4 separate regions of the Homo sapiens genome follow, and all the other regions are reported to be linked to region 4. Evidence: microRNA targets listed by miRTarBase, many of them from high-throughput screens and not tested one by one. Region 4 holds a microRNA gene; each other region holds the end of a gene's coding sequence.
The links. Region 4 holds the annotated microRNA hsa-miR-513a-3p (UAAAUUUCACCUUUCUGAGAAGG, at 2,423-2,445, shown strand). A microRNA usually pairs through its seed, bases 2 to 8, with sites in the 3' UTR of a target mRNA and lowers its output. Matches are read on the target gene's strand: a 7mer-m8 pairs with bases 2 to 8, a 7mer-A1 pairs with bases 2 to 7 and ends in A, and an 8mer does both.

Region 1 (7,126 bases), not on the chromosome of region 4:
TATTTCCAAAGCTTCAAATCTTTTCTTAATTTGGAACCCAACACCTTTTCTCCCCCTACCCCTCACACGAGGAAGTTCCACAGATTTTTTAAAATAAAAAACCAGGTCCTGTTATATAAAAGTACATTAATTATATTAACCAAAAGTTGTTTTTTTTTTTTTTTAACAGACAAGCCTACTATCCCCAGAGAAGTCTTTGAAAATAGTGGAATCCTTGTTACAGATGTAAATAACTTTATAGAAAACATAGAAAAAATAGCAGCTCCATTTAGGAGTAGCTATTGGTAAGAACACTTTTTATGTAACTTTCCCATGTGAGTTGGAGTTGTTGATGGCAAATATTGACATTTGTGTCTAAGGGAAACAGTTGGGAAACTGTTGTTTACATACTTCATGCTATAAATTTAAAGTGTTTGTTTAGGGGTGGAATTGCTATTTGGCATAAATAGGAATTCCTAAATTATCACTAAATGAAGTAACCATCTACTAAAATTACCTATTTTATCTAATGTGCATTTTCACTTGCTGTTAACTTGGATCGTCAGTACAGAACATAATGTAACCTTAGAATGCATAGGCGTTTTCCCCATTAGAGCATCCCGCTTATAAAATATTTCTTGTTCGTATTATTTTAAGAAGTTCTTTATCAATTTTGTGTTTCTTCAGGTGACTCAACTACAGCCTGCCTGGATATGGATGATGCCAATAAAAAATTAGTATTTTCCCTTTGGAAAACTTGTGAACATGTGAATACACATGTGAACAGTCTTACATTTGAAAAACCAATGTTCTACAACTTGGAAAGTTTTCATTTTTTATATTTTGCTGAAATATGTCACAGTGGCATTGCAGTTGTCTGTTAGCTTTGGGTTGCAGTGCTAGATATTGTTTTAAATTATTTTCATTTTAAACAAGATGCCTTCTAAGCTATTGAGCTTATTAAAAATAATTTTACATGTTTACTTAGTTGGAGCAAAAATAAGTCTATTTTAACAAATAGCTTTGTTTTTGCATGCTAATGTCAGAAAGGCATACGATGCACATTATGCTCTGTTTTAAAGGTTTTACCACCCTTGTAAAAACTATAATCTTAAATGGTTTTATTTGCTGTTACACAAACAACACTACATAAAACATTTTTTCCTAAATGGTACAAATTTATAAACTATCATTTTTCACTTACGGTATTTGTAAATACTACACTACAAAAATCAGCTTTCTGAGAAAGAAATAATCATTTATTTATGATATTGAAAATTTCTACAGTAAACACTCAAAACCAAGCAAAAAACATTTGTAAGATACACGGTATCTATTTGGAGCAACGGTTTTTGTAACTAATGTGTTTCATTTTTTAAATAAAGACAACTAAAAATAATCTCTTTCTGCAATGATTTTTATAGCAGAAATTGACTTATCTGGAGTGTTCTAGCAATTTTTAGGTCATTTAGCAGAACAGTAAGCTTCCAGAGGAAACCTACACTTCTATCCTTTGGGCCTGGCCTGTTCTGTTTCTGGGTTCTTTCCGCAGTCAAGTACACCGAGTAACAGGTTAAAGAATGGCAGTTTCACCTGGCCTTTACAGGGACACTTACTTCTTTCAGAAGTCATTAAGTCGGCTTTTATTATTCCTAAACAAAAGAGCTTTATTTTCTCATGAGTAGGTTTTAGAGTTTTAATTGTTGACAATTTTTCAGTTACTAATAGAACCCCAGTCATTTCATTTTATTTTTCCAAGGACAAGAGTCTATTAAGGGAACCATTAACTATTCAGTACAGTGAATTACTTTCAGATTACTAAGGAAAAGGAAAGTGAGCAGTTATAAGATGCCAAACACCTATCTATCTGCCTGAAATATGCACCTTTCAGGTTGGACCTAATAACATTCACCTCCCCTTGCTGAAAAGCCTTCCAACACCCACGAGGCCATCTCAGTTTCCATGCTACCTTTTCTGTAACTCTACTAATAACCAAACCACATCATGTGTTCACCAAACTGAGTTATCCCAGTAACTACCATTATCATCTTTGTCTCCACTGGCCTGGCACACAAGGTATTCAGTAAATACGTTGAATGAAGAATATGAAGATGCGTGGTTTTTCTTTTTTCACTTATTACTAACCCAGCTTGGGCCTTTGCATGGGAAGAGAAAAAGGCTTGCTGGGACTTCAGATAATTTTATCATACAGGTAAAGCAGTGGTTCTCAACATCTGGAGACATTTTTGGTTGTCATTCCAAGATGGTGCTGTTGCCATCTAGTGTGTGGAGGCCAGGGATGCTGCTACAATCAACCCTATCAACAGAGAATGATCCAGCCCAAAACATCAACTGAAGTCGAGAAGCTCCATCATTTTGGCAATATGAATAACAATCTAAATCACCACCCTAGTTCCTTTAACACATCATCTACCTTAGTCTGTCTCCTTCATACTCTGAAGAGTCAGTGTTTATCTGTGGTAAACAACAGCATCTGCCGTGAGGCTCATCACTGTCAGGGGAAAGGGCCTTATATGTAAACACTTTATCATTTCAACTACACAAAAATTATTTACTAAAGCACCTACTCTACCTGACAGTTCACTTACTCCCTTATAACTGCTGCTACAAGCAAAATCATTAAACACTATTTTTTCTGCACAAAGATGATAGGTCTAGTAATGGTACTGTGTCAAGAATAAAACTCGAGGTCTACTCACAGGGAAGCCAGACGACAGGACCTGCTGTGATCCTTCCAGATCAGAAGACACCCACGCTTTCCGCTGCTGAGCATTCTGACTGGCATTGACTCCAGTGCTACCAAAGGAAGCACGGCAGCTGTGACCCTTGCAATCAGGACACACAAACCAACACCGGGCAGTAGTTTCCAGAATTTGGCTTTATTTTGCAGTACAGAAATCATTTGGAGCCATTTTGAGACAGAAGTAGAGGCTCTGTCAAGTCAATACTGCATTGCAGCTTGGTCCACTGAAGAAGCCACGCCTGAGATACAAAAGATGCACTACACTTGACCCGCTTTATGTTCGCTTCCTCTCCCCTTCTCTCTCATCAACTTTATTAGGTTAAAACACCACATACAGGCTTTCTCCAAATGACTCCCTATGTCTGGGGTTTGGTTAGAATTTTATGCCCACATAAACCAAACTTGTGGCTATGCTATTTGGGCCCTGCCATAACATTTGACATAATACAAAATATAAAGTCATAGGGAAAACTTCCGGATGCTGTCCCAAACCGTGGAATATTCAATTTAGAATCTCCTGAACCTCAAGAGGACAGATGACACACAACCTGTATGGATCCAGCTCTTGAGCAGCAGCAGCACATAGCTACACTGATTAAAAGATTAAAAAAACTGTCTCAAGTTGTCTGTGTCGGTATCCCAATGTTTGTTTAACTTCACTAGAAAAAAAAAAAGCCAGTTTGGTTAAATTGAACAGAATGTGGTAACTGCCAATGCTGAATAGCCACTCCATGAAAACAAGTTAATAATTAGAAAGGTGAAGGGGAGTATTTACTGGCACAGCGCTCTTCATTCTCTCCATTTTCATTACAAAAGCAGGCCTTACAATATTGATTTCATTATATGCATTATTTGCCAAATTTTAAATGTGTCCTAATTACATAATAACATGTACTGCTGTTAGTCTTCCCCATAGATGTCATTCTTCTTGCGCTTCATTTCCTCAAAGTCAAACTCTGATCCTGTCATCCTCTTATAGATGTTTTTAATGTCATCACACGTTGTCTCAAAATGAGTGGTGGCATCATATGTGCGGGAAATAAAGATCTGAAAACAAAAATTACGAAGACTTAAGACCATGGAGGGATGTCTTCCAGTGAAACCTGCCCATATCCTTTCACACTTCCATACTCACCTGGCTTTCTGTTCCCAAGTCTTTTGGTACCAGGAGGTCACTGATGCTAACAAATCTGGAGGGAGAGAGAATTCAGTCAGGTGAGCTGGTCCCACACCTGACCATGGCTCTGCCTGAGGTCAACTGAGAGGTACAGATGAATCCCACAGAGCAGCCAGCAGCTACCTGCCTTGCCCTCACATTCGTCCCACCATGGAGCCACAATCAAAGGCCTCAGTTTGCATCTCGGCAGATATAAAAGAACACAACTCACTTCTGTTCAATTGGTTCCAAGAGCTCCAAAGCTGGTCTGATTTCCTTCTCAGGCTCCTTGGTTTCCACAGTTGTACTAACTATAGCAATGTACTTCCCTTGTGCTGCTACATTGTGCGCAAAGGAGATCATGCAGACGTAGATATCTAGAAACAAATGATACCAGCTCACTGCCTCAAGTGTCTCCATCTGGGACCCAACATACTCAGGTATCACCCATATGTCATGAGGTGTGAGTTAAAATTACTCTCAATAGGCAAGATCTTCTACACTTAAGTTCTAAATGGTGACAGAGTTGGATGTAAAGTACACAGATATTTAACAATAGGAATTTCTTTTAACCTACTAGAGATTAAGAATTGAAGTGGTAGCGAACTGCTGAAGTTTGGAATGAGATCTCTTAACAGCTCTGTCATACCTAACTAAAAAACCTGCCAAACCATATTAACTATTCTGGGAGATTCTTCCATTCTGGACCTTGCATTTAGAAAGGTTCTGAATGGCTAAGAAAGGATGTACTTAGTACTGACGTCCTCATTTACTTATTACAGTAATGTAAAACTGCAGAATCCACATAAACCACTTTTGAGTTGGCATAACGATAGAATTCTCGATTAGACTTGGTCTGTATACCACTCATCCAGTTAACTGTGTCATTTCCAGGATAGAAAATCATTTGGATAGGAGAGCATTTAAAGGCCAAAAAAAAAAAACTCTGGGACCTCCTTTATTCTTTTCAGACTTGCAAGGACCCAGGACCCGCCTGGGAACCTTGTGGAAGATTAAGTCCAGTCCCTTTGTTCTACAGATCATCTTTTGTGATTGGTTTTTTTTTGTGTTTTAACAGTCTGGCTCTGTCACCCAGGTTGGAGACAGGGATGCAATCACAGCTTACAGTAACCTCAAACTCCTGAGCTCAAGTGATCCTCTCCCACCGCAGCCTCCCAAGTAGCTAGGACTACAGGTGTGTGCCACCACACCTAGCCATTTTTGTTTGTTTGTTTTTTGTTTTTGTAGAGACGAGCTCTCACTATGTTACCCAGGCTGGTCTTGAACCCCTGGCCTCAAGCAAGCCTCCTGCCTTGGCCTCCCATGATTTCATTTCTTATATGGGGGAAAAAAAATCATTATACAGATAGCTCTTACCTGTCCCATAAAGCCTGATTACCCTTTTTAAGCTGAATTTTAGATAAATAAAAAGATTTGGGGCTTCTAGTTGAAAGGAAAATGGGAACATCGAAGGGTTACAAACAACTGGCTAAGACAAATAAGTTAGGACTTGCAATTTTAGAGCCATGTCCTGATCACAGAAATGAAAGGTGGACACTGCTAGAATCAAATGTAGGTACTAGGATTACAAATAAGGACACAGAAGCAGCTATGTCATTAGCTCAAGAATATACTCGGGTCAGTTAACTATTAAGCATAAACCTCCACAGGAACCTACTGTTAGTTAGAGCTGGGAGACGCAGGGTTCACCAAGCCCAGTCTGTTCATTCTACAGGTGATGGACACAAGTCCAAGGCTGGCTCCGAGTTGAATCTGTCCGCGTTGACACAATGCTGCCGGAGCAGGAGGAGGTACAAAGATTTTTTTCCCCCATATGTAAACCAAGGTCTGTTCACTAATACAGCATACAAAATTAGGAATTTGGGATAAAACACAAAGCAAATTATATCTTACAAAATTCTACCAACATCTGCTGGTCTTCAAACCTCACCTGACTTTCGATTGACTTGGTTCTGTGGAATAATGATCTGGCAGGAGTTGGCATCATTGGTGTTCTTGATGGGGTGGCTGAGGATGCAAATAACTCTGATCACCTGGCCCACTTTTTCTACCCGATCTTTTACGTAGCTGGGGTCACAGATGAGCTGCTTACAGCGAGCAATCTATAACAAAGCATTTAAGAAGACACTGAAGCGGACAAGGATATAGGGAAACACATCCCATGTTCATAGTTTGGAAGACTTAGTATTGTTAAGATATCAAAAACCATCCTCAAGTTCATATTGGTTCCCAAGGGATTGAATTCTGGAACAACCAAAACAATCTTAAAAGAAGAACAGCAAAGCTGGAGGACTCACTCACTAAAAAGCTACAGTGATCAATTCAGTGTGGTACTGGCATAATGACAAACGTATGGACCAATGAAACGAGGAGAGAGCCAGAAATAAACCCTCGCATCCACAGTACAGTGATTTTTGACAAAGTTGCAAAGACCATTCAATGAGGGGAAAAAAAGTCATTTCAACAAACCGTCCTGGGAAAACTATCCACATGCAAAAGAATGAAGTTGGACCCTACCTGACACCATCCACAAAAACTAAAAATGGAACAAAGACCTAAATGTGGTATCTAAAACTATAAAACTCTTAGGAGAAAACAGTGCAAAAGCTTCATGACATTGGAGTTGGCAGTAATTCCTTGTATCTAAAACCAAAGACACAGGCAACAAAGGAAAGAATTCATGAAAACAGGATTTCATGAAAATTTTAAAAATCTTGTGCATAGCCAGGCATGGTGGCATGTGCCTGTAACCCCAGCTACTTGGGAGGCTGAGGCAGGAGAATTGCTTGAGCCCAAGACTTTGAGTCCAGCTTGGGCAACACACAGCAAGACACTGTCTCTTTTAAAAAAACAATAAAGAAATTTTTGCATCAGAAGACACTAATCAAGAGTTGAGGCAACTCACAGAATGAGAGAAAATATCTGCAAATAAGGGATTAATATCCACAATACATCAAGAACTCCTAAAACAACAACAAAAAAAACCCTGATTCAAAAATGATCAAAGGGCTGGGCGCGGTGGCTCACGTCTGTAATCCCAGCACTTCGGGAGGCCAAGACAGGCGGATCACCAGAGGTCAGGAGTTGGAGACCAGCCTGACCAACATGGAGATACCTCGTCTCTACTAAAAATACAAAATTAGCTGGGCACGGTGGCGCATGCCTGTAGTCCCAGCTACTCGGGAGGCTGAGGCAGGAGAATCGCT
Region 2 (7,126 bases), not on the chromosome of region 4:
ATAGACTGGTATATAAGGTAAAGTCATTTGTGGTGAAAAGAGAAAAAAGGTTACACATTTCAGCAATGTATGATTATAAATTCTGTTCTCTATTTCCAAGAATTTCCTCTACCCATATTAAATGTCTAAGTAGCCATAATCATAACAGGTACAGGGTGCATTTTGTTCATATTCTTCTTTATGGGTCTAAGGGGCTGTCTTAAAATTCGTCTGTTCCGGTAACAGGTACACATGGACTTACAGAGGGAACAATAGACATTAGAGACTCCAGAAGGTGGGAGGATGGGAGAGGAGTGAGGGATGAGACGCTCCCTATTGGGTACAATGTGCACTCTTCAGGTGCTAGGTACACTAAAAGCCAGACTTCACCACTGTGCAGTATATCCATGGAACACCACTGCACTTGTACTCATAAATCCATATAAAATTATACTGTTTTAGGGCGAAGAAGGACATTTTATAGAATAAATAATTTTGCTGATCTCTACAGGATTTGTTAGGTTGTTTCCAACATGAGTGTGAGAAGCTAAGTTGAATGTTGCACGGGGTAAAGTTTGCAGTGCTAATTGTGTCCTTTTCTCCTGCAGCGCCTACATAAACCTCACCATATTTGGAAGATTCCTACTCCATTTGCAAGTCATGCTTTTCACCCTATTGATGGCTTTCTTCAGAGTCTACCTTACCATATATACCCTTTTATCTTTCCATTACACAAGGTGGTTTATTTAAGTCTGTACATCTTGGTTAATATCTGGACAATTTCCATTCATGACGGTGATTTTCGTGTCCCCCAAATCTTACAGCCATTTATTAATGGCTCAGCTCATCATACAGACCACCATATGTTCTTTGACTATAATTATGGACAATATTTCACTTTGTGGGATAGGATTGGCGGCTCATTCAAAAATCCTTCATCCTTTGAGGGGAAGGGACCGCTCAGTTATGTGAAGGAGATGACAGAGGGAAAGCGCAGCAGCCATTCAGGAAATGGCTGTAAGAATGAAAAATTATTCAATGGAGAGTTTACAAAGACTGAATAGATTATTGCCCAGTTATTCTTAAGTAAGGACAAAGAAGGAAATATCATCGTATTTCTTTTTTTTAATAAGGAAAAAATAATATCCATACAGTCAAGATACATAGTAAATGGTATCATTTGGAAATCAGCATCGTGGGCACTGCTGAGGAATGATCCTAGTGGTAGGTCAGAAGAAGATGCTGTGAACACCAGGACTTTAATCTTATGCTTAAAATGCCAGATGTTGTTCGGGGGACAACTTGTATCTTTCTAGCAGCAGATCTGTAGTTTGTATAGCCTCAACAACAATTTTAAATAAGATGGAGAATAAATTATTGAGGGGACTAGGCTATATGCATTTGCCTTCATCCACCCATGTTTATTAAGAATCATTGTGCTTAATAATACCAAGACTAAGCACCATAACCAAGAAATACTAATGTAAAGATTGTTTCTTGTTTCAGGAATGGTTAATTCTTCAACGTTGGTATGATAATGATAACTTGTTTTGACTTGAATAAAGTACTACATCAGTGTGGAAAAAAATTCTGATACATTAGCAGCTATGTAAATGACCTAATTGATAGCAGGTGTAATAAGACTATCGTCTTCCTACACATAGGAGGCTCATTCTCTGGACACACTATCACCTATTACATTTTACTGATTAACAAATAAATTGGAATTTAAAAATATCGATATCACCATGATTTAATCCAGATCTGGGATTATGTAGCTAAACATTGTGATGATTATTATTTAAAACCATTATTTAATAAGAGTAAAAATATGTGAATCTGGATATATTTAAAAAAAGAAATTTGATGCCCAGATAATATATTAGGCACTACTGATTTTTTAGTTAAATTGATGCACTACACTTTTGATGTTTGAAGTTACAAACCTGTAATTTTTTTGTAAAGGAAATAATTGCCAAATACCTAGGCCCATTGCTGACGATTAGTTCTAAAATCTTATTCCTCCTCTTCTCCCCTCACTTTTCCCTACTTCCTCTGCAAAAAGATTTAACAAATACATTCATAAGGAAATGTGTGTTGTAACAAATATATTGCAAAAACATAGTTTGTAAAGGCATTCTATAAGCTATTTATGTAAAATCAATAAAAGTTGATCATAATTAAACTGTATCAGTTGAGTATTATAGCAGCACAAAGTATTCTTTGTACAGATTTTGTGCCAATTTGAAGCCACAGAAATGATGTGGATTGTTAATTGTGTTTTAGAACATCCCCGGACACTCAGTGTCACAGGGGGAAAGAAGTGGGTACCACATTCTGTTTATATTTCACATTTTAACTAGATTTGAGTGTTTTTAGCAAGAAATCAGTCTTAAAATCTAATGTCTGGGATCCAGAAGAAAATGTCTTTAATCTGTGAGTTATTGTCACAATGTCATCTTATTTAAATGTACCAATTAGCATTTTGTAATAGGCAAATGTCATTTAGTGCTTTTCACCAATCCCACTCACCCCCGGTGCTCCGCCTTGCCTAAGAAAAAGAAATTAAGGAGAAGTAAACTTTATTTCCTAATATAATGTCAGCTGATATTTATTGAGCTTTTCCTCTTTGCCCAGAGACTAGGACCCAAAGAAGTTAAGTAACTATTCCCAGGTTTATTTCTCTCTCATATGATGTCCCATGTGGATGTTTGTGGTCAGTGGACAGCTTTCCACCTAGTCTTTCTGCGACCCAGGCTCCTTCCTCTTGGGGCTCTGCCTTTCTCTCAGTCCATAGAGCCCTCTTTGTTGAAAGAGCACATAGGAAAAGAAGGAAAAGTCTGTGTGGAAAATGTTTCTGGGTCAGGCCTGGAAGTGGTGCATATCTCTTCCGCCCATGTTCCTTTGGACAGAACTCCGTCACATGGCCCACCTAGAGAGATTTTGGGAAATGTGTCCAGCTGTGTGCCTGGGAGGAAGGGGGCACCATTTTCTTGAGCAGCTAGACAGTTTGCCGTATTTGTGGTGTTCTCCTCTTGTTGATGTTGAAATGGTGAATGAGCCATAAAGTATTTCAGGTTATCCACACACTAATCATCTCAGTGTCTTTAATTCTTAACTCCAATATGAATGTTTAAAGCTTCCTCTAGATTCTTATTCCTATATAACTAATAGAGAAGAAAGGACAGCTTCCTATGGGGAAGACAGAGGCTTCCTCATAGATGTTAGGAATAATCAAACTTGCCCCTGCCCTTTCACCCGTCTCAAATTCTGGTCTTTTAAAGCAGCGTTATGTTAAGTAGTCCTAACATTGTAATATACAGTACTGCCACATTCTCCTACTTTCTATTAGAGGAAGTCAGAGAATATTTATGGAAGTGAGGACCCAAATTACCTTCTACAGATGACTTTTATAGTTACAGGACAGAAAGTGAAAATCAAGGTTACGTTTTCTACTTTTGTGGTAGAAATTGAGAAGTGGGTGGATATGGTTCGAGAAGACCTTTCAGAAACACAGAGACTGAGTCTTTGTCTTCCATGCTGTCTCTGCAGTACTGAGTGAATTTCCTTATACCCTTGTATCATGTTTTCCTCCCATCTTCTAGAAGCTGGGGACAGATTTGGAAGAGAATTACACAAGTTCAGTTTTTTGATACATGGATTTTACAGTGCATGCAGGTTATTTATGTAGAGAGGAGGTCTGGGAGAAAGATGGAAACTAGGGAGATGACTGAGAACAAAGATATTTGGGATTAACACAGATAGAAGAAAAGTTTGAAACCATGAGATTGTCACAGCATGAAAAAAGATATTCAAAGACACTAACCAACTTGAGGGGTGCAGTGGTCTGAATGTGTCCTCCAAAATTCAAATGTGGAAATGTATTTGCCAGTGAGATAGTATGTAGAGGTGGGGCCTTGAGGAAGTGATTAAGTCATGAGGGCTCTGGGATTAATGACTTAAAAAGAGGTGTGAGGCAGCTGTTCAGCCCTTCTGTCTCCTGTCCCTTTTTTTTTTTTTTTTTTTGAGATGGAGTCTTGCTCTGTTGCCCCAGGCTGGAGTGCAGTGGCGTGATCTTGGTTCACTGCAAGCTCCACCTCCCGGGTTCACGCCATTCTCCTGCCTCAGCCTCCCGAGTAGCTGGGACTACAGGTGCCCGCCACCACCACGCCCGGCTAATTTTTTATATTTTTAGTAGAGATGGGGTTTCACCGTGTTAGCCAGGATGGTCTTGATCTCCTGACCTCATGATCTGCCTGCCTCGGCCTCCCAAAGTGCTGGGATTATAGGTGTGAGCCACCATGCCCAGCCCCTTCTGTCCCTTCTAACGTGAGGACCCAGCAACAAGGTACCATCTTGAAAGCAGCAACTGGGGACTCAGCAGACACCAAACCAACTGGTGCTTAACCGTGACTTCCCAGCCTCCAGAGCTGTAAGAAAATAAATTTCTATTATTTATAGATTACCCAGTTGAAGATACTTTGTTAAGGCAGTACAAATGGACTAAGACAAGGGGGAAGAAATTTGCATTCCTGATCTTCCCAACTTCTTCAAATTCACAACACTTGAATGACAGTCTTATTTCAGCACTTACTGCTATCACCTATTACTTTTATGTGTGTCTTACCTATTTGAGATGCCAGATTCCTTGGAAGTAGAGACCGTGTCTGAATCATCATTGTATTAAACCACTCATCCTTAACAAATGCCCAAGCCATGGTTAAAGTTCAATAAATACTTTGTTGAATTTATTAATAAAATGGCAGAAATGTCATTCTCTTCCATATATGTTTAATAAATCCCTGATAGGTGCTAAGCACTGCACTAGGTAAAAATTCTCTTCTGATGCTGTCTTTTTGGCCAACCATTTTTTTATCATTTATTCATTAGCTGACATTTGCTAAGTGCTTTGGAGGGGTCAAAAGGGGAAGTAATGAGAAATCAAAGATGGTCCCTACATCAAGGATAAACTATCTTTTTTTAGTCACTCAAAGTCATAACCCTTTGGAAACAAAACCCACCAGTACCCCAGATTTTGACCACAGATGAATCAGTACTACAAGGACTGGTTAGAGGGTTGAATGAATCTGTATACTCAGCACTTAACACAGCACTCTGGGTAAAAGAAAAAAGATCCTCAAAGATATTAGTTGGTTACATCAAGAAAGGACAAACTTAGGTTAATCTATAACTTCATCTCAGAGGAACAGGAACTTTGGAGATAAACAGGGCTCTGCCACTTGCAAGTTGCACCATCCCTGGTTTCTCCATCTGTAAATTGATTAAAACACTGCCTATCTAATAAGATTAAATAAGTTAGAAGCATTCAGTTAAATGTCAACTGAAACTATTGTTCATGTAAATTGTGCTTGATGCTTTTTCTTTCTAGATTCAATGATTATTGTCATTTTACCTCCATAGGCCCTCAATAGAAATCAGTTGCAGAGGGCAGAAGCCTAGATATTTTCACCTTAAAATTGGAGGGTGAAAGACATTGAGGTGAAGTAGAGATAGAGGGTACACAGAAAAATCGTATAAGTAAAACTAACATCGTTAACATTATTTACTGTAAGTTATCTTTGTAAGAGTGGTAAAATACATTGTGTTGTTAAATAATTTCATTTAAAAAATGCATCACTTTGTGTGTTTTTATATTGCTAAAACCATAAGGCCAGTCTACAAGGTTTGTAGATAAAATAGAAACATACCTTCCTTGAAAAGCAGAATAAATTTTTTAAAGGCAGGAAGGAAGTGTTTGAACCATGTGTCAACAAGCTTTACTGTCAAAGCAGGCTTTTGGTATGGGAAGAAAAATACTTATAAATACTTGTTTTAATATTTGCTTTATTAAAATACATTTAAAATACAGCATTTTTAAATCTCTAAGCTCAACTTGAAGATATAAGAACAGTAAATTTGATAAAAATGAGAAATTACATTCCCATTTCTTTAACAATTTGTAAATTCCAATTATCCTGAACATTTAATACCATTTACATATTTTATTAATCACATTTTCTTAAACATTTGATAAGAGATTTAATATTTTGATCCAACTACCAAAAAAGCAGACTTGTGTACTTGACAGATTTTTCTAAACACTTCACAACTCACGATTCAAACAAAGACAAAATAGCATATCAAAAGTTAATCACTCAGTTGGAAAGCACTCATACCATAGGCTTTTATTCATTTCTTGAATAATTTTGTTATATCTTCCTCTTTTAGGCTGCAATGAGCTATAATTGCACTACTGCACTCCACGCTGGGTGACAGAGCAAGACCCTATCTCTAAAAATAAAAAAGTATATATATATAAAAATATCTTCCTCTATTATAATTTAACTCATTAAGCCATTTATTTAGATGTAAACTTGCCCCCCTGACATGTGGTATGAAACAAATAGAAACCTAGAAATTTAGTGCATATTCAAATATTAAGACAGACACTGGTGTGGTGACTTTTGTCTGTCGCTTCATTGGGACGTTTTTTCTTTCTGATCAACTTAATGAAATTATAATTTACTATAATTAAGTGTAGCCATTTTTACTGTAGAGTTCAATGATCTTTGATGAACGTGTACACCCATGTAACCACCACCCCCAATCAAAGTAAAGAACATTTTCTTACCAGAATAAATTTCCTCTCCGTTTGCAGTCATTCTCCCCAGCCCTAGGTCACCACTGATCCACCTTCTGTTACTGGAAGGTTAGTTTTCTTCCCTGATTTAGAATTTCATATAAATTAAATCAGATAGTATATACTCTTGTGTTTAGTTTCTTTAGCTTAACATGTTTAGAGATATTTGCTGTTGCCTGTGTCTGTAGCTTTTTGTTTTCATTGCTGAATAGTATTTCATTGTAATATACCACAGTTGGTTTATGTATTTGCTGATGAATATTTGTGTTATTTCCAGCGTGGGATTATTATGAATAAAGTTGCTACAAACATTTGTATACAAGTCTTTGTGTGGCTATATGTTGTTATTTCTCGTTGGTAAATATCTATTAGATTTGCTGGGTCATAGGGAAGAGATATATATGTATACGTTTAATTTTATAAAACACTGTGAAACTATTTTCCAAAGGGTTGTACCATTTTACCCTCCTGCTCCCAATGATGAGAATTCCATTTTTCCCGCATGTT
Region 3 (7,102 bases), not on the chromosome of region 4:
CATATTAGATGGTGATATTTTAGAGATCAAAAACTTTATTCTTTTATAAATTCTTTATTACTCTAGCATTTAGAATGACTTAGCACAGAGTCGTAAAAAAATTATTGAATCAAATATGACAATAATTATACAGGAAGACATTAAATAAGTCCTGCTACAGTTTCCATTTTAACAAAATTAGTACATGTTTAAAAATGTGATTGGGCTGTGGGTTAGATTTTCTATCCCAGGAACTTTGTTCAGAATCACTTGAACTTACAGTTATAGATACAGTTTAGGTTACATTTGGTTTATATAATTTGAGAAATGATGTTTTCAATATTTTTAATAATGTGGCCTTTCTTTGCTTCATGAAAGTAACCATCAAGAAGCAATATTGCTTCTCTGTCACTCCCCTCCGTTAGAATATTTGTAACTTAGAGACAGTAAATAGCAGGTGAGGCCAGACTGGTAAAAGTCTTAACTATCTCCACATTTTCTTTGTTGACTCAACTTTTGATTATCTGGATTGGGGAGATTTTCAGATTGCTACCGGTATTAATATGTACATTTTTGTTTTTATTCTGTTTAACCATGGCCTTCTGACCCTTACAAAGGAATGTAATATGCTATCTAGAAAATCAGGCTTCTAATTAGCCTGGATTTATCCAGTGCTATAAATACCCACTGGCCTACACTGTCAGGTTTCTTCTCCTGAGGGGGAAAAATAAAAGAATAATGTAGTAATGTAGTAAACAAATACATCCTAAGGTGGGCCATGTGACATTTTGACAAGTGTGCAGTTATTAAGGATTATTAATTATCAAGTTTTAATAAACTTTTTCCCTTTTTCTTTTAGCTCCTGGTATTATTGCCTGCACATTCTTGGTATCTTAGTATTATTGTTGTTGCCAGTGAAAAAAACTCAAAGAAGAAAGAATACACATGAAAACATTCAGCTCTCACAATCCAAAAAGTTTGATGAAGGAGAAAATTCTTTGGGACAGAACAGTTTTTCTACAACAAACAATGTTTGCAATCAGAATCAAGAAATAGCCTCGAGACATTCATCACTAAAGCAGTGATCGGGAAGGCTCTGAGGGCTGTTTTTTTTTTTTGATGTTAACAGAAACCAATCTTAGCACCTTTTCAAGGGGTTTGAGTTTGTTGGAAAAGCAGTTAACTGGGGGGAAATGGACAGTTATAGATAAGGAATTTCCTGTACACCAGATTGGAAATGGAGTGAAACAAGCCCTCCCATGCCATGTCTCCGTGGGCCACGCCTTATGTAAGAATATTTCCATATTTCAGTGGGCACTCCCAACCTCAGCACTTGTCCGTAGGGTCACACGCGTGCCCTGTTGCTGAATGTATGTTGCGTATCCCAAGGCACTGAAGAGGTGGAAAAATAATCGTGTCAATCTGGATGATAGAGAGAAATTAACTTTTCCAAATGAATGTCTTGCCTTAAACCCTCTATTTCCTAAAATATTGTTCCTAAATGGTATTTTCAAGTGTAATATTGTGAGAACGCTACTGCAGTAGTTGATGTTGTGTGCTGTAAAGGATTTTAGGAGGAATTTGAAACAGGATATTTAAGAGTGTGGATATTTTTAAAATGCAATAAACATCTCAGTATTTGAAGGGTTTTCTTAAAGTATGTCAAATGACTACAATCCATAGTGAAACTGTAAACAGTAATGGACGCCAAATTATAGGTAGCTGATTTTGCTGGAGAGTTTAATTACCTTGTGCAGTCAAAGAGCGCTTCCAGAAGGAATCTCTTAAAACATAATGAGAGGTTTGGTAATGTGATATTTTAAGCTTATTCTTTTTCTTAAAAGAGAGAGGTGACGAAGGAAGGCAGGAATGAAGAAGCACTGCGTGGCCTCCGGTGGAATGCACGGGGCACAGCCGCGACTCTGCAGGCAGCTTCCCCCCCATGCCAGGGCTCTGCGCCGTCATGTGAGACTTAAAAAAAAAGTTGAATGACTTCGTGATACTTTGGACTTCTAAATTAAATTTATCAGGCATAAATTATGTAGAATTAGAGGCTTTGAAAATAATACTGGTAGGTTGCTCAAAGGTTTTGAAAGAGAAATCGCTAGGTAGGTTACTATCTGGCTAATCCATTTCTTATCCTTGACAATTTAATTCATATTTGGGAAACTTTTAGGGAAATGAAAAATAAAAGTCACTGAGTCTGGGTGACATTTTTTAAGAATAATATAAATTCAGTTTCAAACTCTTCTCACATTAAAATTTTGCTGTGAACTCTTACTAAAATGAGTTTTAGGTTCTGTAAGTGGAAAAATGTGCTTTTATTTTATGGGCCATTTTTACCACAACTAATCTTGCCTTGGATTACTAAGCATCTCCTGCGATCCCACAGAGGACTGTGGTGGCCACAGGAGCTGAAAGCAGAAGAGTGGGATTTGATGCCAGGCAGTGGAGTGGCCTCAGCCCCAGATTGTACCTCCTGCCCTGTAGGAGGGGAGGGGGCAAAGCCTTCTGACTTCACCTTTGTTTGACCTATGTATGGAACTTACTTTTACTTTTTGCCTTAAATTTTTAATGAAATGCAAATTTTCTGTGATGGGGTTCTCTCTCTCTTTTTTTCGGGGGGTGGAGTCACTAATAAATTTGCAAATGAAGTTAAAGACAAGGCAACCATCTGGCTTATGCTATATAATACTTCATTTAAAGAAGAAAGGAAAAGCAAATGCACTTGCAGCTTTTGAGGTCTCAGCAAAAATGGGCATGTGTCTTTTTTGAAGTTTAGAAATATCCTAATCTATTTTTATTTATCTAAAAGTAAGTGTTTTCCGGCTGATAAGGCTAACCCTACCCAGGAAAGGATTGATAACTAAATAAATTTCCTCTGTTTTCCCATGCATTGAAATTATGTTGGCTGAGCATGGTGGCTCACACCTGTAATCCTAGCACTTTGGGAGGCCGAGGTGGGCGGATCACTTGAGGTCAGGAGTTGGAGACCAGCCTGGCCAACGTGGTGAATCCCCGTCTCTACTGAAAACACAAAAATTAGACGGGCATGGTGGCGCACACCTGTAATCCCAGCTACTTGGGAGGCTGAGGCAGGAGAATTGCTTGAACCTGGGAGGTGGAGGTTGCAGTGAGCTAAAATTGTGCCACTGCACTCCAGCCTGGGTGACAGAGGAAGACTCCGTCTCACAAAAAAAAAAAAAGAAAAAAGAAATTATGCCAGCTGTTTAATGTGAGAGAATAGAAAGAATGTTCATGGAATGTACCTGCCCTGTAAAATGTTTGATCATTTTCATTAATGTTGCAGAGAATCCGACTGCTATTAAGAGAAAGTGAACAAATTAAGAATTTAAAAGACAGGTTCAGGCATGTCATAAGTGAAAACAAGAAGGCTTAATACAAACTTGTTGGGTTTTGTTCGTGTGTGTGTGTGTGTGTGTGTGTGTGTTTTTTTTTGGTTCAGCCTATCTAGCCACCTACAAATAATCACATTTCTGTTACCTGAATTTATTTCTCAGCCTGTAAACCTTAGTCACTGTTACCTGTTTCTTGCTCAGTGAATATGATCTTGGCACTGTCATCTAGAAAGCAAGATATTTGATTGGTTTTCTGGTTCCTTCGAAGATAATAATTCCATATCCAGTTTGACTGATTTTCATACCCCTGAATCAACTAGTTATTTTCATGAAATGGTTTTTGGATATCTCTCCTCTAGTTTGGAGAAGTAATAATCACAAAGATTAATATTTTGCTTCTAGTACTTACAGTAGAAGAATTTTAAACTGGTACGTCTACTCCTGTTAAATAGAAAGGGGATTCGTTGTATTATGTGCTTGCTTTTTTTTAATCAATAGAATAAGATTCAATGCATATTTATGTTTTATATTTTCCACTATTCAGGTATCATGAAATCACTCTAGAGATGATCAATCAACATCATATTTATACTTTTGGTTAATTATATACTACTCAGGGAAAAAATGAACAAAAATAACTACTCATCCTTCAATTTCATTTTCTTGAAACAGTAAGAGTATAATTTGGTATGCCTCAGCTGTCACCATTTTATAAGTGGCTCATTCTGTTCTTAAAGTAAGTATTTTTATTGGAACTCAGGGTAATTGGGGGAATTTATTTAGCTTCTAAAATATCCGGCAGGATAGAGAAGATTTATTTGGCTTCAAAAATGTCTGGTGACCACTTCTCTTATTAGCCACTACTGCCCATTTGCTTCAAAAATATATTTATTGGTCTCCACCATGTGTGACACACACAGGATTTCCAAACATACCACTTTTGAGAAAAATGTGCAGTAAAAAGGAGGTTTCTAGAAAGTGACAGTAACTCACATTTAAGCACTAGCTGACCTAGGAGGAGACCTGGATCTTCATTCTGGTTCTGCCTTTCATGAGACTTAAGACTTGGAGGAGCCACCTGTCCTGTAGACCCCAAGTTCCTCAGCCATAAGCAAACGGGTTAATCCTAAGAGTTCAGGACCAGTTGGGTGTCGTGAACGGAGCCATTAGCAAGGTCTGTAGGATTCAAGGACTTGGGCACATTCACAGTCCACACTATTGTCATGGTCATTGACTTACTACTTGAGCTCAAAGCCCTGACATTTCAAAAGGTTGTCATGATAACAGTGAAACCTCTGAATCCCTTAAATCAGAAGGCATGGCAACATACTTTTTCTACTGGCAATAGCTCTTACAATGAGTGTTTCATAATGAAATAGTCTCTGCTGAAGAAAACATGTTTTCCTTTTGCTCTCTCTGCTTTGTTGGTTTCTGTGCTGTGTGGAATTGGAGAAGATATATGCTCTGAAATATTTTATACAGATTACTGACTACTGGACAGGGTTTACCACTATATAACATCTCAAAGTTATTCAAGGATATTTAAAGCATATTTAGTTTAGTTACACCTTATTTTAAACCGCAGAAAACAATAGCTTTAAAATTTTTGCCATTAAAATAATTATAAATTTATACTTTTACTCAAGGACTAGATCACAGTTTTAGGACAAAAATCTCTCCTATTTAAAGTTCATACCTTGTAAGTATTTAGTTTGTATATTCATGAACAAATCTGGACATTTATACTTTTTTTGTTTCCTTATCAACTGTTCACAATTATTAGTTAATTGGTCTTAACAGTTCTACATTATAATTGAAAGAAAAATTACTTGAGAAAATAATTGTTTCAGAATAGTGCCTACTATATCTGTGTCAGCTAAAAATTTGTCCAGAGTTTTAGATATAAGCTAGTATTTTGTGGAGTTTTATCCAGGCGTTAATAGTTCTTCCTGGCTGAAATTTAATATAGGTGCAGAATCCTAAATAACACTGTGAGATGTAATCTTAACTGCCCTCAATACCTTATAAAACTGCTGCATTTAACCCAGTGTGCATTTAATGAGTGGCTGGTCGTTGATACACTCATCTTAGATGCTGAAATTTCTGTTTTCTCCAGCCCTTGTAAAAGTGGGTTTCTTGATGAACGCGTGCTCCCAATGCTGAAGCAAAAGATTTGCATTTAAGGAGAGAAATACACCCTGAAATTTGAGTTTGAAAGATTAGAACATAGAGGGTCTCTACAGTGTTTTTCTGCAACACCAAGTAGTCAAATCTATTTATAGAAACTCTGATTACAACAGAAATTTTAAAATGAAATTTTCCACATCGGTATTTTGTAGGAAAGCTCTTATAATCAATGCTTAAGCTGCTTTTTGAGGCTTTTCTTGTACAGAGGTTGCAGCCAATTACATTTTAATTGGTAGGCTGCTGAATAATGTTTTTGTATGTTTTAAAATAATATTTATTTTAATAGGTTTTTTAACATTATGCAAATCCCAATAAAGAACTGACACGTTCCATAGGCCATTGACTGGGAAATTTTGTGAAACACAGCCTAAATACACAGTTTTTACACCAACTAATTTGTCTTGCCTTTAAAACTGATTATAACTCTTCTTTAAGTACAACTTTTATAAAGAAAAAATACAACACTAAGACTGTATGTTCTGTAAATTATAGTGTGATGACCCATGCAGAACCGCTGTCTGAAGCTTACTCAGCGATTCATAGCCATCTCCAGCCATGTTTTATCAAATCACACACTAAAAATAAATGGAAATGCTACAGTGAAAAACCAAAAGTTACAGAGCAACATAAGTAAAATGACTAGGCAGTTTCTTAGTAACATGTTTGAAATGGGAAAGGTGACTGACTGCCTTTCACCAGAGTCTTAGCTGTTTCACGTTCACTATTTTAGGTTAATTTTCTTGGGAAATCAATTTGAATATTCCCCCCTGTCCTTTTGCATTAAAGGACGAAAATATATGTTGAGAGTTTGACAGACTTTTTAAATATGCCTCTTTCCCAATTTTATGTATTTTTGGTTCTGCGCACACAGATTTATCAATGAAGTACATTTGCCTCTGGCTTTATCACAAGGAAAAAGGAATCAAACATTGAACACAAATGTGTTCCAAACCAGTCTTGTCCATCTTGTCACTTTTATGTGACTGCTCCTCTGAACCAGAAGGGGCACGATAGAAGGCCATAGGAATGAAAGTAAATCATTCAGGTGAAGTGAGAAATTCTTCCATATACAGAGTGAAAATGTGTGATTTCATTCCTGCCTTCCTTTAAACGTTGTCTTGATCTCTGCCTAGTAGTAGTTGAGCCCTCAGTCGCCCAAACATGAGGAGAGACCCAACTCCAGCAGCCAGAATTTAGTATTTACATTTGCCTTCCCAAGTTGAGAATAGAATGTGGTGTTCTGTGCTTTCTGTTTTTATTATTCCAAAATATTTTTTTAAAGAAGTGTTATTTTTCAACAGATTCATAAATTAGTTCCTGATGTACGGTAAATTAAAACTCCCACTGTGTCAGTCAAACTGAGATGTGCTCATTTCATAACCACTCATTTCTAGTCTGTCAGAGCTGCACTGGTGGCTTATTGCTGGTTTTTAAAGGTGTTTTTAACTTACATGTAACATGTTTAGGACATGTTTTTTTTTTCTAATTTGTGTGTCTTTACAACTGATTAAACAGTAGTTTAAAAATATGCGTGTGTGTGTTTGCTAATATCTTAGGCTTTTAATTCCACTTATAGA
Region 4 (7,126 bases):
TAAAAATTCGAAACCCAGAAAATGGTAAAGATGAAGATATGGATGTGAAAGGGAAATATCTCAGTCCCAAAATCGCTAAGTTAAAGGGAAAATTCAAGCTGCCTCCCATTTTATTCAGAGTCATCCCTCTGCTCACAGAGATAAATGTTTATCTGATTGCCTTCTTTGGAAACCTTCATCAGTAAACTCAAAAGAATGCAACCATTTCTCTCTCATCTACCTGTGACCTGGAAGCCTCCTCCCTACTTTGAATTGTCCCACCTTTTTGGACCGGACCTAACCAACATTCATTTTACATATTTTGACTGATGTCTCATGTCTCCCTAAAATATTTAAAACCAAACTGTGCTCTGACCACCTTGGGCACACGCCCTCAGGACCTCCTGAGGCTGGGTAATGGGTGTGCATCCTCAACCTTGGAAAAATTAACTTCTGAAATTAACTGAGACCTGTCTCAAATGTTCAGGGTTCATAAACTAGTAAAATATTCTTTGAAGATAGATAGACTGTGATGAATTAAATATGAACACTGAAAACTCCAGAGCAACCGCTATTCTTTTAAAGTGACCAACTAATAAGCCAAGAGTGCAGAAAATATAACTGAATGATAAAAATACTAAATCTACCATCAGGCAGAAAAACAGGAAAATTAGGAATTACAAAAGGATGAAGTACAGAAAACAACTAGAAAGCCAGTAGATTTAAACGCATGTACATAAATAATTATAATAAATGATATAAATGCTTCAATTAAGAGAGACACTGTCAAATTATGTAAAAATAAGAAACAGCTGTACACTTTCTAAAACGAAACCATTTTAAATATGAAGACCTACGTGAAAGTTGGGTAAAAGGATGGAAAATATATTAATGCAAACAGTAAATATTAAAGCTAAAAAATCCTAGCACTATTAATTGTTAATCACACAGCGAGAGAGAGAGACTGAGCCCAAATAAATGTACTATAAAGAACCATGGAACTAAGAAAAATTAAATAGCATTTCTTGTCTTCCAGCCCATTATCTGTCTTGTCTGTCTCTCGTATTAATTTCTATGGGTTCTTCCCACTGCATAGCCTGAAGAAGAAATTAAATTTCTGCTCTCTCCAACCTGGTACTGTCTGACTCTTCTCTAGTAGTTTGGATCCAGGTGGTTGTATTCTGTGGTTTTTCCATTGGAATTAGGGTCTGTGCAGCACAGCTGGAGTTTTAGGACCATAGAGAGCTTTGGTGAGTGGTTGGCCCTGCCTACTTAACTGTAATTTTAAAAGTTTTTGGGGTTTTTTTGTTTGTTTGTTGTTTTTTTTTTGAGACAGGGTCTCACTCTGTAACCCGGGCTGGAGTATATTGGCACTATCTCCGCTCACTGCAACCTCTGCCTCCCAGGTTCAAGTGATCCTCCTGAGTAGCTGTGATTACAGGCGCGAGCCACCACACCCCGCTAAGTTTGTATTATTAGTAGAGATGGTGTTTGACCATGTTGGCCAGGGTGGTCTCAAACTCCTGGCCTTAAGTGATATGCACACCTGGACCACCCAAAGTACTGGGATTACAGGCATGAGCCACCATGCCCGGCCGACTCTGAAGATTTTTTTTTTTTTTTTTTAGATGGATTTTCACTTTTGTTGCCCAGGCTGGAGCACAACGGCACAACCTCGGCTCACTGCAACCTCTGTCTCCTGGGTTCAAATGATTCTCCTGCCTCAGCATCCAGATTAGCTGGGGTTACAGTCACCCACCACCACACCCGGCTGATTTTTTGTATTTGTAGTTGAGATGGAGTTTCACCACGTTGTCCAGGCTGGTCTCAAACTCCTGACCTCAGATGATCTACCAGCCTTGGCCTACCAAAGTGCTGGGATAACAGGCATGAGCCACTGTGCCTGGCCTGATTTTGAGGATTTTTAATGAGACAAGCAAATTAACGTGAAAACTAATGGGATAATTCAGACAAGGATTACTCGCCTTTGGGGAAGAGATGAAGTGAAAAGCTCTATTCTTGATCAGTCTAAAAATCTGCGTGTTAATTAGCCATTCGAGGTGGTGTGTGCCTTTAACCTAAGCTACTCGGGAGGCTGAGGCAGGAGAAGTGCTTGAACCCAGGAAGCGGAGGTTGCAGTGAGCTGAGATCACGCCAATGCATGCCAGACTGGGTGACAGAGCCAGACTTCATCTGAAAACAAAAACAAAACAAAAATCTGCATGTCAAAATCTCACTCGGGGCAGGATGAAAAGGGGAGTGCTGGGGGTTACAAGTTGCATTGTCCCTTGGCATAAATCTTGGTGGCCATGCGAAGGCATACACCTATAGGGACTTGAATAAAAACAGCATGAAAAGGGAGCATTTGGTCTGGGATGCCACATTCAGCCATTCAGCGTACAGTGCCTTTCACAGGGAGGTGTCATTTATGTGAACTAAAATATAAATTTCACCTTTCTGAGAAGGGTAATGTACAGCATGCACTGCATATGTGGTGTCCCTGAGGATGGGGGTGTAGCTGCGAGCATGGTGATGCCTGTTTTGCATCCTGTGCACCCACTCCTCAGTGCTGGGCTACACTTCAAGGAACTTTTTGTGCCTTCTAGACGACTGTACATAGGAATTGTGGACTCCTGAGAAAACGCATGCACTTAGGTTCCTTAAGAATTTATTTTTGCCAAATGAGGCTTGGCTCAAATAGGAAATACATTGGATAGAGGCCACAGCCATTCTTCGTCAGCTGGAATGCTTTACTCCAGATTCCTAAATTCTCTAAACTTTTTTCACTTATCAACTAGTCATCATTTGCAAGGATTCTCCTTTAGCGCTCCCAAAAGACTCTCCTGCCTCTCAGGTCCCTTCATTGCTGATCCACAGCGTCCATTTTCTGTCAAAGACTAAAACATTTTCTCATTGACTTTTAAAATACCTTTCAAAGCCTTAAGTCACCAATTTATGAAGGATTAAGCATAGTCCACCCAAGAATATTTCACTCTTTTTCATTATCTTTTTTCCCCGTTTTTTAAGAATATGTATGAACAATGGAAGGGTATGATGGAATTGATACTCAAGAGATATCTCCTAGTCTTCTCTCCCCATTTTCTTTGTGTGTGTGTGTGTGTGACAGAGTCTTGCTCTTTCGCCCAGGCTGGAGTGCAGCGGTGTGATCTGGGCTCACTGCAACCTCTATCTATCTCCCAGGTTCAAGGGATTCTCCTTCCTCAGCCTCCCGAGTAGTTGGGATTACAGGTGTGCCCCAACACACCTGGCTACTTTTTGTATTTTTAGTAGAGATGGGGTTTCACCATGTTGATGAGGCTGGTCTCGAACTGCTGACCTCCTGATCCACCCACCTAAGCCTCCCAAATGGCTGAGATCACAGGCGTGAGCCACCACGCCTGGTCCCATTTTCTTGTGTTGACACTTCTTAACTCTTAACCTAATGGAGAGAGATAGAGGGAAATACACACACACACAAACACACAAAAAAAGAGAGAGAGGGCAAAAGAGTAAGACAAGTGCCGGATGGTGTGAGGCCATCTGCAGCATGAAACTAGTATGCATTTTTGAGAAGTAGGTTATAAATAAGCTACTTATATTGCAGAAATGTGTTAAAAATGTTATAAATAGTAAGTTATTAATACAAATTTGATTCCAATGGAAATAGAGGTTATAGCATATACATCAAAAGGGAGAAAGTATAAAAAACAATTACTATATGGTTACAGGCAGGATTTTAGTTTGTTTTGTTACGTTCAGAATGGATGAATATGTTTAAGACCATTAATGTCTGGAAGTAAAAAAACAATCAGTTGAAGTATCTTTTTCAATATTAAAACAATTGCTCTAATAGATTACATAGCATCTTTTTCATTGGGGGCGGGGGAACATTCTGAACAGTAAAAAAATTCTGTCAGTTGGAAATGCTGTATGTACATAGAAATTTCCAAAGTGATAACACTTTTTAGTATATAATTTCTAAAACTGTATTATAGTGAATGCATGTGTACTTATATAATTTTAAGTCATATCCTAAAACGAAAGAAGAGAATTTAGTTAGTATCATATCTCTTTTATGATTTCTCAAAAGAGTACTCTATTCACTGTTATTTGTGGTTTTTCTTTCAGTGAAATACTTTTTTGTATCATTCATCCGTGTTTCTACCAATTTATTAAGGTTTAACTGACATAACTTTTGTATATATTTAAGGTGTACAACATGATGTTTGGATATATGTATATATTATACAATGATTAAATCCACCTAATTAAAACATAAAATAATATAAACATAACATATTTAGGTGAAACTCTAAATACAAATTATAGGATCTCTGTGGTATGCAGAATAACAGTCCCCCTCCAAAAGATGTTTACAGAGCAACCCCTGAACTCAAAAACATCACATTTTATGGTAGAAGGAAATTTGCAGATATGACTAAATATTTTGAGATTGGGATTATCCTAGATTATCTAGGTGAGTCCAACATAATCACAAGGGTTCTTATAAGTAGAAGGAAGGTGGTTAGAATAAGAGAAACATTGGAAAATGCTACAGTATTCAATAGAGGTGGAGGTAAAGTCCATGAGCCAAAGAATGATCTTCTAAAGACAATCAAGTAGATTCTCCTCTGGAGCCAACAGAAGGAACAAAGCCCTGCCAATGCCTTCATTTTAGCTGAGATAAACCTAATTTAGATTTCTGACCTTTAGACTCTAATATATTTGTGTTGTGTAAACAACTAAATTTGTGGCAGTTTGTTACAGTTATCAATTAAAAACCAAAAATATCTGTATGCTAAGAGTGCAAGTAAACACACTTAAAAAGTAAATAATTATTAAGTGGAGAGGAGTATCATATTTACGGATTGAAGGATTCAAATCTATAGATTTATAGAGTCTTATTGATCTATAGAGTTAATGCAATTCCAGCCAATGTCCCAGAAAAATATTTGTAGACATTAGCATGATGATTCCAAAGCTAATATAAAAGGTGAATAAACTAGAATATGCAAAACAATCTGAAAGAGAATCTCAAACTTGGAGAATCTACACTGGTAATTTCCAGATTTACTCTGTAACTAGTTTAGCCAATGTAGTGTGAGCCTCAAGAAAGGATGGATGAATAGAAATAGAAGGACCAGAATTACCCATACATGTCACCAATTCATTTTGACTAAATTGTAAAGTCAATCTAATGAAGAAATGATAGTATTTAAACAATATGATGCTGGGAAAATGTGATACACATATGAAAAACATGAACTTTGATCCATATTTCAAACCATATACAGAAATTAACACACTCTTAGGCCAAAATGTCAAGCTATAAAATTCTATGAAAAAAAAATGACAGAAAATATTTTTGACCATTAAATTATATATGATATCAAAATATAAACATAAAATTGATTAAAAATAAGTTGATAAAATAGACTTTGAAAAAATTAAAATTGGTCTTCAAAGAAGACCATTGAGATAATAAAAGTCAATCTATAGAAGACTAAAAATATATGTTATTTAATAATATGGTAAATAACATTTAATATATAATGTAATAACATATATCAGCATAAATACATATAATTTAGCACTCCTGTGTATACTAAGAATTTTACCAGTTTTAAAAAATTATCTGTGTTTTTCAATAAAATGTCAGTTCTGTTAGCATGTGTTGAGGATGTTTTGATCTGTATTGTAGTCCCTGCACATGAAAAAAATCGCATTTAATGCATTCATTCTGGACCTTCCTTGCTATACTGTAATCTGTCACATCGTTAATGTGAATATATCTGTTTATCCTCATAATTTATAATAAGTTAACATTTATTATGGTTAGTAGTCAGGAACATGGAAAGGCAAGAAGTGTAACTGAACAGGCTGAGTATATATAGATTTAGGGAGTCAAAAGAGGAAAAATAACTGCCAAAAACAAATTTTACACTTTTCCAAGTTATTCTTATCAGAATTCTGCCAAAGAAAAATACATTTTTGTTGATATCTTTTTTTTTCTGACCATGAGCATAATTCCTATTTATTGCAGAATAACTTGGAAAACACATAAAAGGTATGAAAAACTTGAATAGCAGTAATGAAATAATACCATAATACCAGTAACATCATAATGTGGATATAATACTTGATAAAATTTATAGGTGGATCTTTCCACATATTTATCTGTATTTATACTTAGGTTTTAGGTTGAGGTCAACAATTTTGTGCCATTCTCTTATAAATGATTTCAAATAATGCATCATGAATATTTTGTAAAAACATGCAGTAGCCTAGTAAATAATTTTGAAACATAATTTTACATGCCATGTTTCATTCTAGCATACAATTTTTTTTCTGATTTTTGACTTGCTTTTATAGCATTTTAAATATTTGAAATGTTTTCTAAGTGTTTTCTACTTTCTCTCAGATTTACTAACATATTCCACTTTAAATAGTCATTGTTTTCCACTATTTAATTCCACCCCCATGATCCAATCACCTCCCACCAGGCCTTACCTCCAACATTGGGGAACAATCCAACCTGACATTGGGGTGGGGACACAGATCCAAACCTTATAATTCTGCTCTGGCCCCTCCCAAATCTCATGTCCTTCTTACGTTGCAAAATACAATCCCAACAGTCCCCCAAGCATTAACCTAATTGAAGCATTAACCTAAAAGTCCACAATCCAAAGTCTCATCTGAGACAAGGCTAATCCCTTCTGCCCATCAGCATGTAAAATAAAAAAAAAAGTTAATTACTTCTAAAATACAATGGAGGCATAAGTTTTGGGTAAATACTTGGGAGAAATCAGCAATAGAAAGGGGCTACAGGTCCTGTGCAAGTCTGAAACTCAGCAGGGAAGTCATTAAATCTTAAAGCTCCAAAATGATTTCCTTCGATTTCATGTCCCACATCCAGGGCACACTGCTGCAAGGGTTGGGCTCCCAAAGCCTTGGGCAGCTCCAACCCTGTGACTTTACATGGTTTAGCCCCCAGTGGGCTGCCACTGAGTGCTTACGCGTTTTCCAGGCCTAACTACAAGCGGTCAGTGGATCTATGATTCTGGGGTCTGGAGGATGGTGGCACTCTTCTCAGAGCTCCACTAGGCAGTGCTCAGGGTGGACTCTGTGTGGGGGTGCCAATCACACA

Region 1: the mRNA of TASOR2 is a reported target of hsa-miR-513a-3p. Seed matches in the 3' UTR shown: 7mer-A1 at 1,155-1,161.
Region 2: the mRNA of SC5D is a reported target of hsa-miR-513a-3p. Seed matches in the 3' UTR shown: 7mer-m8 at 1,838-1,844, 7mer-m8 at 4,499-4,505 and 8mer at 6,394-6,401.
Region 3: miRTarBase lists MBOAT2 as a target of hsa-miR-513a-3p. Seed matches in the 3' UTR shown: 7mer-A1 at 1,999-2,005, 7mer-A1 at 4,964-4,970, 8mer at 5,294-5,301, 7mer-m8 at 5,435-5,441, 7mer-m8 at 5,539-5,545, 7mer-m8 at 5,638-5,644 and 2 more.

Annotation. Positions count from the first base shown.
Region 1 is chr10:5,762,363-5,769,488 of GRCh38, forward strand. TASOR2 (transcription activation suppressor family member 2) reads left to right here. Exons shown (of 22, transcript NM_001321783.2): 21 at 170-284; 22 at 667-1,378. The coding sequence ends at 670. It overlaps GDI2 (GDP dissociation inhibitor 2), which reads right to left. Exons shown (of 11, transcript NM_001494.4): 8 at 5,851-6,022; 9 at 4,132-4,276; 10 at 3,879-3,933; 11 at 2,861-3,790. The coding sequence ends at 3,644. Among named protein-coding and RNA genes, the nearest start is that of GDI2, 48 kb to the right of the region's middle.
Region 2 is chr11:121,306,470-121,313,595 of GRCh38, forward strand. SC5D (sterol-C5-desaturase) reads left to right here. Exons shown (of 5, transcript NM_006918.5): 4 at 1-17; 5 at 588-6,941. The coding sequence ends at 1,043. Among named protein-coding and RNA genes, the nearest start is that of SC5D, 17 kb to the left of the region's middle.
Region 3 is chr2:8,852,641-8,859,742 of GRCh38, reverse strand. MBOAT2 (membrane bound glycerophospholipid O-acyltransferase 2) reads left to right here. Exons shown (of 13, transcript NM_138799.4): 13 at 839-7,053. The coding sequence ends at 1,064. Among named protein-coding and RNA genes, the nearest start is that of KIDINS220, 19 kb to the right of the region's middle. RefSeq lists a silencer at 4,390-4,684 and an enhancer at 4,274-4,825.
Region 4 is chrX:147,208,817-147,215,942 of GRCh38, reverse strand. MIR513A1 (microRNA 513a-1) reads left to right here and starts at 2,352; the gene lies at 2,352-2,480. The region is part of intron 1 of LOC105373347 (periphilin-1); the gene reads right to left.